Homo sapiens: one gene and its partner. The protein of the gene in region 2 interacts with the protein of the main gene of each other region in a pairwise test. Each region holds a gene or a part of one and is shown on either strand. Other genes may lie near its edges.

Region 1 (5,115 bases), about 20 Mb from region 2:
TTCTCAGGTCCATATTTTCTGTCTCTCCCAGGTGACTCCATGGCCTACCACAATGGCAGATCCTTCTCCACCTTTGACAAGGACACAGATTCAGCCATCACCAACTGTGCTCTGTCCTACAAAGGGGCTTTCTGGTACAGGAACTGTCACCGTGTCAACCTGATGGGGAGATATGGGGACAATAACCACAGTCAGGTGAGTGGACCGTGAGGGCCCAGAGCAGGCCAAGCTTGGGAAGCTGGAGGGGGCTAATGGAAGTACAATTTAACTCCCTATCCTAGCAGAGACTAGGAGGCAGGAACCTTACTTGTATGACAACATGTTTTTCCCAAGGCAGTGAGCAATCTCAAGGACACTGCAGGCCAGGTAAAATAGAAACAGCACAGGTTAACCCTTGACAGTCCCAAGGACAAACACTGGTCAAATGGATTCCAAAAACAGAACGCTTTACTCAGACAAAATCTCTGTCTGAACCCCAAAAGTAAAGCAGATAAAAGTGGAGGCCATTTAGGTGAAGCAGGGTTGATGACACAGAACCCCTGGCCTGGGGCATCTTTGGAATCCCAAGAACACCTTAAAATGAAGTCCACAGACTTTAAATCTCCTCCTTTTGTGAAGAAACCAAGGCCCAGAAAAAGCTGACTTTCCTGAGGTCACAGAGTGAAGTTGGCAGCAGAGCCAGCTCTCCCCACTTCCAGCCCCTGGCATTTTCCCTGCACCACACACACCTCTAGCACTTCTACAATCACAGAAACAGATTTTTTTCGATCCCTTTTAGAAATAGGCGAACGGATCAAATTCAGTAATCTCCCTTACTCTGAGCCTTGCCTACACTGGCACATTCCTGAAAAGTGTAAAGCTGTGTGGGACTAGCCACTTAATCATAACCAAACCCCTGCCCAGGTCCCTCCACAGAAGTTAGTCACCATCCCTGGGAGGAGGGCTGGATCTTCCCTTGGGGCCACACCACGCTGATCCCTGGACCACAAGGATGCTTATGAGGTCTGCTCACTGGAATCCCAAGGACTTTATAAAAATGCAAAGGGCCAAATTCCACTTTATGATAACCCCAGGGATTCTGATTCAATGATCTCAGGCAAGACACAGCATCTCATTTTTTTTTTTTTTTTGCATATTTGCATTTTTGTTGTTGTGGGGTCAGGGGGGAGGCAGTTGATAGACTCCACAAGCGATTCCTGACATGCAGCAGGTGTTGGGACCTGTTGCTTTTCAATATTAGTCACTTTGATACACATGTTTATGCCCTAATTAACTGCTAGCAAATGACACCTGCGACCTTAAGTGTAGACCTTACCTTACATAATTTCTGGCACTTTTCAAAGCACTGTTACCTTCTGTATCTCAAGGGTTTATCATTTTTACCCTGTGCAGGAATTAGGATGTGGTTTTTCATGCCTGTTTTACAGAGGAGGCAAGAGTCACAGGACATTTCTTGACAGCAGTCCTGTGTTGTTTCCATCTTATTGTGTTATTTCATCAATATTTCCATTCTGAGCATTATTTTATCATCTTTATTGCCTTGTCTCAAAAATACTCGTATAATACAAAGTTCTTCTGGGAAAAGAAAAAAAAAACCAACAAGCTACATGTTAGAAAGCAAGCCTCTCTTTCATCCTTCCATTCAATTATGGAAGAAGAAAGAGATGACATGGAAAGGAGCCACAGGAGGGGAGCCCCAGCTCCAGCTCTGCTCCTCCTGCTGTGTGGCCTCTGCAAAGTCACTCTCCCTCTCTGGCTTTAGTGCCCACCACAGTACAAGAAGGCGTGGCTTCCAACCCTGAACTATCAGAGGAAAGAACCAGGGCAAAGGCAGGCAGCATGTGCACCAAGCTGTTGGACTACCATACTCACTGTAACTGAGTAATTACAAGCGGATTTGCCCATGAAATGAATGAGCCATTCTTAAACCTCACATCCCTGTAAGACTCAGAAACTGCCCATGTCAGTGAATGCCAAACAATTAGAAGCAAATAAAGTGTCTCTATTTTTTTCCCATCTCACTAGCCATTAACTTCCCCACAGTGGGGCAAGGGGCCATGTGGGGTTTCATGGATTGACTCTACCATCTGCAGACTTCGCTGAAGAGTCAAAGTTGAAACCTGGAAGCCAAGACACAGATACAGTTTTTTCTTGTAGAAAGCTTTGGCCAAAATTTCAAGGATATTTCCCCCTACTTGAGACTAGGGAAGTAATATTTACCAAGCACCTACGACGTGCCCAGCTCTGTGATAGCTCCTTTACAAACTCATTTAATCTTCATCTCATCTTTCAAGGCTAACATTATCAGATCTTAAGAAAGAAAAAAAAATAGTAAAACCGAGGCTCAGAAGATATTGAGAACTTAAGACTATTTATCTCTCAAGTAAGAACACTGATATTTAACCCTATATGTCAAATTGTAAAACTGTGTTTTGTTGAGCTGTTCGTTCTGCTATTCCATACCAAACCCCTATCAAAATACTCCATAGGAATCTCGTGAATTACAGACACACACACACACACCATGTATGTAGCTATTCAATTCTAGAACTTCTAATAATGACCTGAACTCCTTCAGAACCTATTCCTAAGGACGGCAGATTTCATCAGCCACCATTTTGCCTCAAGAGGAAAGACCAAAGCTCCATGCAAACTCAGGCGACTCTTGACTCAGGTGAAAAACTGGGTCAGATTCAGCCAGTTCCTTTGAAAGTTTCCACAACCCAGACCAACAGAGAGATAGGCAAGAGGCAGCTGTGATATACCAAATGGTCAAATTGAAACAGAACTCATTTAGTTTGAATGACTAAATAGCAATGATCAGTGAACACCTCGCCTAACAGTAACCAACCTGGAGGCCTTCTCTCTCTCTCTCTCTCTCTCTTTTTTTTTTTTAACAGGGCGTTAACTGGTTCCACTGGAAGGGCCACGAACACTCAATCCAGTTTGCTGAGATGAAGCTGAGACCAAGCAACTTCAGAAATCTTGAAGGCAGGCGCAAACGGGCATAAATTCCAGGGACCACTGGGTGAGAGAGGAATAAGGCCCAGAGCGAGGAAAGGATTTTACCAAAGCATCAATACAACCAGCCCAACCATCGGTCCACACCTGGGCATTTGGTGAGAGTCAAAGCTGACCATGGATCCCTGGGGCCAACGGCAACAGCATGGGCCTCACCTCCTCTGTGATTTCTTTCTTTGCACCAAAGACATCAGTCTCCAACATGTTTCTGTTTTGTTGTTTGATTCAGCAAAAATCTCCCAGTGACAACATCGCAATAGTTTTTTACTTCTCTTAGGTGGCTCTGGGAATGGGAGAGGGGTAGGATGTACAGGGGTAGTTTGTTTTAGAACCAGCCGTATTTTACATGAAGCTGTATAATTAATTGTCATTATTTTTGTTAGCAAAGATTAAATGTGTCATTGGAAGCCATCCCTTTTTTTACATTTCATACAACAGAAACCAGAAAAGCAATACTGTTTCCATTTTAAGGATATGATTAATATTATTAATATAATAATGATGATGATGATGATGAAAACTAAGGATTTTTCAAGAGATCTTTCTTTCCAAAACATTTCTGGACAGTACCTGATTGTATTTTTTTTTTAAATAAAAGCACAAGTACTTTTGAGTTTGTTATTTTGCTTTGAATTGTTGAGTCTGAATTTCACCAAAGCCAATCATTTGAACAAAGCGGGGAATGTTGGGATAGGAAAGGTAAGTAGGGATAGTGGTCAAGTGGGAGGGGTGGAAAGGAGACTAAAGACTGGGAGAGAGGGAAGCACTTTTTTTAAATAAAGTTGAACACACTTGGGAAAAGCTTACAGGCCAGGCCTGTAATCCCAACACTTTGGGAGGCCAAGGTGGGAGGATAGCTTAACCCCAGGAGTTTGAGACCAGCCTGAGCAACATAGTGAGAACTTGTCTCTACAGAAAAAAAAAAAAAAAAAAATTTAATTAGGCAAGCGTGGTAGTGCGCACCTGTCGTCCCAGCTACTCAGGAGGCTGAGGTAGGAAAATCACTGGAGCCCAGGAGTTAGAGGTTACAGTGAGCTATGATCACACTACTGCACTCCAGCCTGGGCAACAGAGGGAGACCCTGTCTCTAAATAAAAAAAGAAAAGAAAAAAAAAGCTTACAACTTGAGATTCAGCATCTTGCTCAGTATTTCCAAGACTAATAGATTATGGTTTAAAAGATGCTTTTATACTCATTTTCTAATGCAACTCCTAGAAACTCTATGATATAGTTGAGGTAAGTATTGTTACCACACATGGGCTAAGATCCCCAGAGGCAGACTGCCTGAGTTCAATTCTTGGCTCCACCATTCCCAAGTTCCCTAACCTCTCTATGCCTCAGTTTCCTCTTCTGTAAAGTAGGGACACTCATACTTCTCATTTCAGAACATTTTTGTGAAGAATAAATTATGTTATCCATTTGAGGCCCTTAGAATGGTACCCGGTGTATATTAAGTGCTAGTACATGTTAGCTATCATCATTATCACTTTATATGAGATGGACTGGGGTTCATAGAAACCCAATGACTTGATTGTGGCTACTACTCAATAAATAATAGAATTTGGATTTAAACCCAGGTCTTCTGGCTCCAATGTTCCTGCTCTTTCCCGGTCCCTTAATGAAAATCTCTCCTTCTTTGGGGAAATGTGTGCTGTGGCAAGAGAGTGAAGGTTGCAGAATGGGATATGGGGGCAGTTCAACTGGATGCTTCCTCAGGCTTCTACAATCCTGAACTCTGAAAACTAGGAAGAATGTCTATTAGGAATATCGCCTTCTCCTCTACACTGCAGTCCCCAAAAAGGGAGCAAGCCCATATTCCTCCAGCCTCAGACTGAACACATCTAGTGATGGGGAACCCATTGCCTGGATGGCAGGTCTGTTAGTCCTCAGCAAATATAGTGAGTCAGAACTGCTCAACGCATAACATTTCTCTTTTTAAACAAGGGTATATGGGGGGAGAGTAATTCCCAGTTCATTCTCTTAGGGATTTTCAGAAAATTGACTTATTTAATAAAATAAGTCAAGTTTGGGCTGATAGGCCTCATTCAAATGGAATGTGATGGCTCTGGAGCAAGGATCAGAGGAATTTATGGT
Region 2 (7,032 bases):
GAAATTGAGGTCATCTCCTCTACACGCCATTGGTTGACTCCAGTCACGTGATTGCTTTTTGCAATAATTTGTGGGGAGAGTCGGCCAAGTTTTGTGAGACTTGACAGGTATCAAATGGTTAAATTTCCTCTGACTCAATCAAGTTGGCTGGAAAGACATCCTTTTCCATCCTCTGCCCCCTCCCTCCCTCTCCCCATAAAAGAGCAGTGAGTGGGAGGAGCTCAGAAGCCCCAAGAATTCCCCAAGCCCTCTCCCTGCTGTGGTCCAGATTTGCCGGAGGGGTTGGAGTTTTGGTTGCTACCCAGGGCTGTGCCCACCCAGCAGTGCGGCAGCCCCAGGCAGGGGCGTGCTCCCAGTGCCAGGCTCACAGTGGTTTCTCCAGTGATGTTACTCCTGGGCTGCTCCTGCGGGGCTGGCCAGAGCCTGCTCTTCACCCCGCCCTGCAGATATTTCTGGACTCCCCACCGCCACGCCTCAGCCGAACACAGCTGGTGCTGCCCGTCCCGCCCTGCCTTCTCGCTGCCTGGCCTGTCTGCCTGCCCTGCCTCCTCCCTGGACCGCCCCATCCCACCTCCTGGGAGATAGACCTTGATAGGTGGAGTAGGGGCTGTGCAGAGCAGTGAGCTGCCCCGCTGGAGGGCGAGGATGAGTCCCCAACACTTCCCGAGGGCACCCACATAGGAGCCTGAGCCAAGCTGCATCTGGAACAGTGCAGGACCTGTCCCTGCTCGGTCACGTGACGTGGCTCTGGGAATGGCCTTGGGAGACAATCACACATGGGAATGGAGGGGCTGGCACTTGCCTGGCCTGTGGTGAGCATCAGCTGCACCATCTCACTGCACCCTCACCCGGGCCTGAGAAGGGACAGAGCCTAGGAGTCAGGGGGCAGGGATGCCAGGCAGATGTCTTCCATTCCTGCTGTGGGGCCCTAAGCCAGCAACGGCCCTTCGCCTGGCATGGTCACTCTTTGACTTGTCACAGTTCCCTCTTCTCACTTCCCATCGGTTTATCAGCTCTCCCCGGGGAGAAGGCCAGGGCCCTGAGCTATAGTCCTGGCCTGGGGGCCCAGTCCAAACAGGGTCCTGGGAGCAGAGCCATTCCATTTGGCCAACACAGCTTTTAAGTTCCTTTCTTTCTCCTTCCCCCTCCATCCTTCCCTCCTTCCTTCTTTCCTCCCTCTCTTCCTCCCTCCCTCTCTCCCATCCCCTTCCTTCCTTCCCTTTGTCCCTCCATCCCTTCTCTTTTTACTCCAGTGCCTTCAAGAGGGATGCAGCAGCCACAGTCTCCACCACTTCCCAGGCCTCTCTGCACATCAGCATAACCTGCCTGGACCCTGAAGGCTTTTGCCTTTTCACCTGGGTCGGGCCTATCTTGGGGAGACCGAGGCAAATGGGATGGGACCCCTCGTTTCCTTCCAGGAGCTCACAGTCTGACAGGCAGACCATTGTGAATTTTACTCAGGGCCCTCCATGGGATGTGCTGGGTCTTGCATCCGACAGTCTGGGAGGGTTAATTGCACTGGGGAGAGCTGGGGAGCTTCCTGGAGGAGGTGATGTGAAACTGGCCTTCCCTCCTTCTCTTCTCCTTCCTTTTATTGCAGAAATGACCCTCCTTCGTGGGGTCCTCCTCCACCTCTGGCTTTAATCTTGCTCTCTTCCCTCCTTCTGACAGGACATTCCACACCGTGTCCCAGAGCTCTCCTGGGCGGCTCCCTTGGCTGGAAAGCCCCTCATTCACGGGCTTGGCAGGTGCTCCCAGTATCTGTTTGCCAGGAGAATACAAGTGCCCCTAAGGGAAGTGGCAGATCCTGGCAGCTTCCTTAACCCTTTCTCTGCCCCCGTTCCTCCTGTTTCCCTTTGACGAGCCCTGCTGGCCTGGCACAGTGAGCCCAGTCTGCACAGCTCTGCAGACAGCTCCACAGCTGTGGATTAGGATGTGGGGGCCTCTGGGGGTGATTTTGGGTACCTGTGCTGGGTGACAGGTGGTCGGATGTGGGAGGGGACATTCCTTGGCAATCAGATTACTGAACTCCAGGCCAGCAAGGTCGGTGTGAGGCTGGAGCTGAGTTTCCCTGCCTCTGAGGGGCTGTCGGATGGGCTGGGCGAGGACAAGTCACTGCACCTCAGCTTCCCCTCGTGAACATGGGGAGAACCACATTTCTTGCTTTGAGGCATGGTTGTGAAGATCGATTGAGGCCACACCTGTGAGAAGCTTTGCAGGCTGCCTGACCTGTACTCGGCACTGGCTGTGTGGGGACGTTACCATCGCCCCCATCTTCAGTGGTGGTTTTGCAGGAGGAAAGAGCAGTGTTCCCACAGCCCTCTTTAGCTCCCAGAAGCACAGGCGAGGGAGGTGTGCCTGTGTGGGGCCTGGCCCTGCTGAGACCCCTGGGGCTCTGCTGTTGCCCGCTTAGCCGGTCTCTGCTGCCCCTTTGCCTTCCTTGGCCTCGGTTCTTTGCTTTCCCACGGAACCTCATGGGGTCATTGTCCAGGCCGTGGGGTGTGATGCATGTGAAAAGCTTTAGAAGCCAATTCCAGGGTTTGCACTCATGTGTGCGTTTGTGTGTATGTGTGTCATGTGTGCGTGTGTGTGTGTGTGTGTCAGGCCGTGTGCACGTGTGGACAATGTGTATATCTCCCCGCGATCTGCCTGCACACATGTGTTTGTGGGTATACATGTGTGTTTGAGTGTGCACGCATGCGCATCCTTGCACATGTACCTGCGTTCACATGGGTGTCCCTGGCTGACTCCACGTGCAGGGCCTGGTGTGTTTGAGGAGCTCGTGGCAGGGCGACGTTTCTCTCCTTACCGTGACCCGGCCCCAGCTGGACGGGAGAGGAGGAGATGGCACGTGGAACCTGCCGGTTGAGCGTGAGGCTGTGGGTTCTGCCGCAGGGCAAGCCGGGTCCAGCTGGATCCGACAATTTCATGTCTTTTTAAACTCCCGGGAGGGCGATGTTACATTATGGCTCCCGCTTCTCCTCTATTTACATTCTCCCATATAATTGACTCGTCTGCTCTCTCTCAGTGCTTTGCCAAGTGTCGGTTTTAAAGTTTCTGGCCTGGCTGGTGGATGTGCCTCGATCCTGCAGGCGGAGCCCACAGCGGCCCTTGTGGTGGTTACTACTGAGTGTCAATTTGATTGGATTGAAGGATACAAGTATTAATCCTGCGTGTGTCTATGAGAGTGTTGCCAAAGGAGATTAACATTTGAATCAGTGGGCTGGGGAAGGCAGACCCACCGTTAATCGGGAGGGCACAATCTAATCAGCCGCTAGCAGGTGTAGAGCAGGCAGAAAAACATGAAGAGACGAGACTGGCCCAGCCTCCCAGCCTACATCTTTCTCCTGTGCTGGACGCTTCCTGCCCTCGAACATCGGACTCCAAGTTCTTCAGGTTTGGGACTCGGACTTGCTCTCCTTGCTGCTCAGCTTGCAGACAGCCTATTGTGGTGGGACCTTGTGATTGTGTAAGTCAGTACTTAATAAACTCCTATATATATATATATAATATATATATATATATTTCTATTATTTCTATTCCTATTAGTTCTGTCCCTCTAAGGGAACCCTGACTAATACAGCTCTGCTCATAGGCAGGACTGCAGGACTGCAGCCACCAGGACATGGCATAGGGACCAGGGTGGCCTGCTGGCAAAGGACAGGCAGCCGGCAAGACTCCTGGATTCCTATCCTGGCTCCAGTGTCTACCAGCAGTGCATTTTCCCACCCTGTGCCTCACTTTCCCCATCTGTAAGAAGGGGGTGGTGACTGTAACTACAGTAGGGTTTTAGTGATGTCTAATGTATTACTCATATAAAGCACAGAGTAAGACCCCATTACTGCCCTTGCCACCAGGGGCCCCAGTGCAGCAGGAGGCTGTGAGGTGGTTTGGGGCCCTCTACTCGCTGGCCTGTGCGTGCTCCCTTGCCATCCTGTGTGGTGTCACACTGCTGCTTCCCTCACTGGGTACGCAGGAGAAAAGGTAAGGCAGTAAGCACCAGTGGTCAGTTCAGCGGATCGCTCGCTGCTCGCTGCCTCTGAGGCTCTGAGCCTGAGCCAGGAAGGTGCATCCTTGGGCAGTCGCGGGCCAGGCCAAGTTCAGCCCGCAGAGTGGCCCTCCCCTGCCTCCTCTGGCCACTTGCTCTTTACAAGGAACGGAGGTCCAGGAGGTGGATGGACCTGTGCACCTCCCAGCTGCAGGCCTCTGTTCTGTCTCTGTGATGTGATGGCGGTGAGTGGTGGCTGATCACTGAAAGGAGGTGTTCCAGGCAGGGGTGGGTGAAGTTGGTGCGGGCGGGGTGTGGGGGGGGCTTTGCCATCTCAGATGTTGTTTTTGTGCCAGCCCAGCCCCAGGCCACTGGAGAGAAGACCGTGGAATGAATGAATTGGTGGCTGGATGCTCAGTGGAGGGGTGCGGGTCACTTTGAGTTATCCATGTCAGATAGTCCGAGCCGTCACACCCTCAGCTTCCTATCAGCAGAGGAGTTTTTCTGGAGGAATCTCAAACTAGGTAATAACCTCATATTAGCAGTAAATGTCACCATCCTTTGATGACTCAGACCTAAGAAATGGAACCACAGCCTGACCCACTTTTCTCAAAATTTAATTACTCAGAGCTCTGGGGACATGGGCTCAGCCTATTTGCCGAGATGTCTCTGCCCATGAAATGGAAGCTTCCTTTATTTTCTGTTTCCTAGACCCGTGTTCTTGTAGGGAAATTAGCTCTTCTGTCCTTTTCTTCCTTGCCAGGACCTCGGCAATAGGGTTTCTGGTGGCCTCTTTTTTTTCTGTAAATAAATGCCACAAAATGACATAAAAACAGTGTGGTGATTCCTCAAGGATCTAGAACCAGAAATACCATTTGACCTGGTGATCCCATTACTGGGTATATACCCAAAGGATTATAAATCATCCTACTATAAAGAGAAATGCACACGTATGTTTATTGCGGCACTGTTCACAATAGCAAAGACTTGCAACCAACCCAAATGCCCATCAATGATAGATTGGATAAAGAAAATATGGCACATATACATCATGGAATACTATGCAGCCATAAAAAAAGGATAGTTCATGTCCTTTGCAGGGACATGGATGAAGCTGGAAATCATCATTCTCAGCAAACTAACACAAGAACAGAAAACCACAAACACCACATGTTCTCACTCATAAGTGGGAGTTGAACAATGAGAACACACGGACACAGGGAGGGGAACATCATGCACCAGGGCCTGTTGGGGGGTGGGGGGCTAGGGGAGGGAGAGCATTAGGAGAAATACCTAATGTAGATGACAGGTTAATGGGTGCAGCAAACCACCATGGCATGTGTATACCTGTGTAACAAACCTGTGCGTTCTGTACATGTATCCCAGAACTTAAAGTATAATAAAAAAAATTTTTTTAAATGTGTGTATGTAGCAGGAGTGACTTAAGTTGAAAAACTCTGACCCTTGCATTGGGAAACAGTGATCTCCCAGTGAGAACACATGAGCATCGTAACCGTCTTCCATTGGAAGCGACCGTCTTCCATTCTGCTGGCGGGTGGCCTGGGGGACCAGCACTCTTTCCCGTGTGTGGGTACAGAGGGAACAGATGGGGTCCATATGCAAAGACATTGGGTGTGTCAGCAGGTTTGCTTGGCAGCATTTATGGACCCCTAACATGAGACGGACCTGTGCGGGGGGCACAGGTGAGCGATAGGCGAGCCGTCTGTGCCCTACTGGGTCTTCCGCTGCGGCGGGGGAGTCAGCCATCTGAACAGGTGGTTTTACCCAGTGAGGTGCAGTAGAAGTGGGAGTAGGGTGTGGCCAAGGCCAGTCTAGGGAGGCACCTGCCAGCCCCATGGGGCGGTGGCCAGTCAGAGACCAGCCTGCTTCTCCAGGGCCAGCCCTTTGGGATGCATGCGCCTGAAGGCAGGCTCCCATTGGTGGATGCAGAGGGCACGTTCCCGTGCATGTTCTTCCTCTGGCTCTTGTTCATATTTTCATATTTACACTGGACCCTGCTCTGAGGGTGCTCCCGTCAGCACCTGTGATCCTCAAACCCGCCCTTCGTGCCAGGTGGGATCGGCCCATTCTGCAGATGTGCCAGTCTAGCTCCTTGAGTCCAGCTGGCACAAGGGGATGAAAACCACCCTCCACGTCCCAGTGGTCACACGGCCTGCATGTTGGTGCAGGTCCGTACAGTCACATGCATGGACGCAAGCAGCCTCTGTCCATTCTCAAGGCCAGGTGAGGGCGGCGTGGCTCCGCTCCCTCCTGTTTGTTTGCTGGCGCCAGCCTCCATGGCAGCTGGGTCCCAGTGCTTCAGAAGGGGAGCCATGGCCCCAGGCAACAGTGCGTACCTGAAGCCTCTGCCTCGGTTTCTTCTTCTTCCTTTCAGATGCATAAAAATGCACATCAAGCCTGGGCACCATCTGGTGGCCTCTTTATTTTTTAAATAAATGCCATAAAATGACATAAAAACAGTGTGGCGATTCCTCCAGGATCTAGAACCAGAAACACCATTTGACCCAACAATACCATTACTGGGCACCACCTCTACAGAAATTTCAGAAACAATTAGCCAGGTGTGGTGGTTCGTGCTTGTGGTCCCAGCTACTTGAGAGGCTGAGGTGGGAGGATCACTTGAGCCAGGGAGGCTGAGGCTGCAGTGAGCTGTGTTTGTGCCACTGCACTGTAGCCTGGGTGACAGAGTGAGACCCTGTCTAAAAAAAAATGAAAATAAAAATAAAAATGTACACCAGAGAGCACGGTGGTCTCAGCTTTTCCAGCTGTAGTTTCGTCTTTCTTCTGGAGGACAGAGGCCCAGCCATCTGCATCCTCAGCACACAATTAGGTCAGTCACTGGGGCCTGTTGTGGGGGTGACAGGCAAGCCTGGGTGTGGGGAGAGCCGGCCCGTTGCCCATGGGCTCTGCACAGTGGGTGGGTGCAGGTGCGATGACAGGCGCGGGACAGAGGGGCCCCTGGGGGGACTTTTCTCGGGTCCTCTGCCTTCCCACCACTGTGTCCATCAGGGACATTCCCAGGA

The links. The genes of interacting proteins can lie anywhere in the genome.
Region 1: the proteins of COL5A1 (region 2) and TNC interact in a two-hybrid assay, tested with the Homo sapiens proteins (one study listed by IntAct).

Annotation. Positions count from the first base shown.
Region 1 is NC_000009.12:115,019,053-115,024,167, reverse strand, and holds the end of TNC (tenascin isoform 1 precursor), read left to right. Parts: intron 1-31; coding exon 32-195; intron 196-2,900; coding exon 2,901-3,011; 3' UTR 3,012-4,593; downstream 4,594-5,115. UniProt on the Homo sapiens protein: Extracellular matrix protein implicated in guidance of migrating neurons as well as axons during development, synaptic plasticity as well as neuronal regeneration. Promotes neurite outgrowth from cortical neurons grown on a monolayer of astrocytes.
Region 2 is NC_000009.12:134,644,796-134,651,827, forward strand, and holds part of COL5A1 (collagen alpha-1(V) chain isoform 1 preproprotein), read left to right. Parts: intron 1-3,258; exon of another isoform or gene 3,259-3,469; intron 3,470-3,595; exon of another isoform or gene 3,596-5,411; intron 5,412-7,032. UniProt on the Homo sapiens protein: Type V collagen is a member of group I collagen (fibrillar forming collagen). It is a minor connective tissue component of nearly ubiquitous distribution. Type V collagen binds to DNA, heparan sulfate, thrombospondin, heparin, and insulin.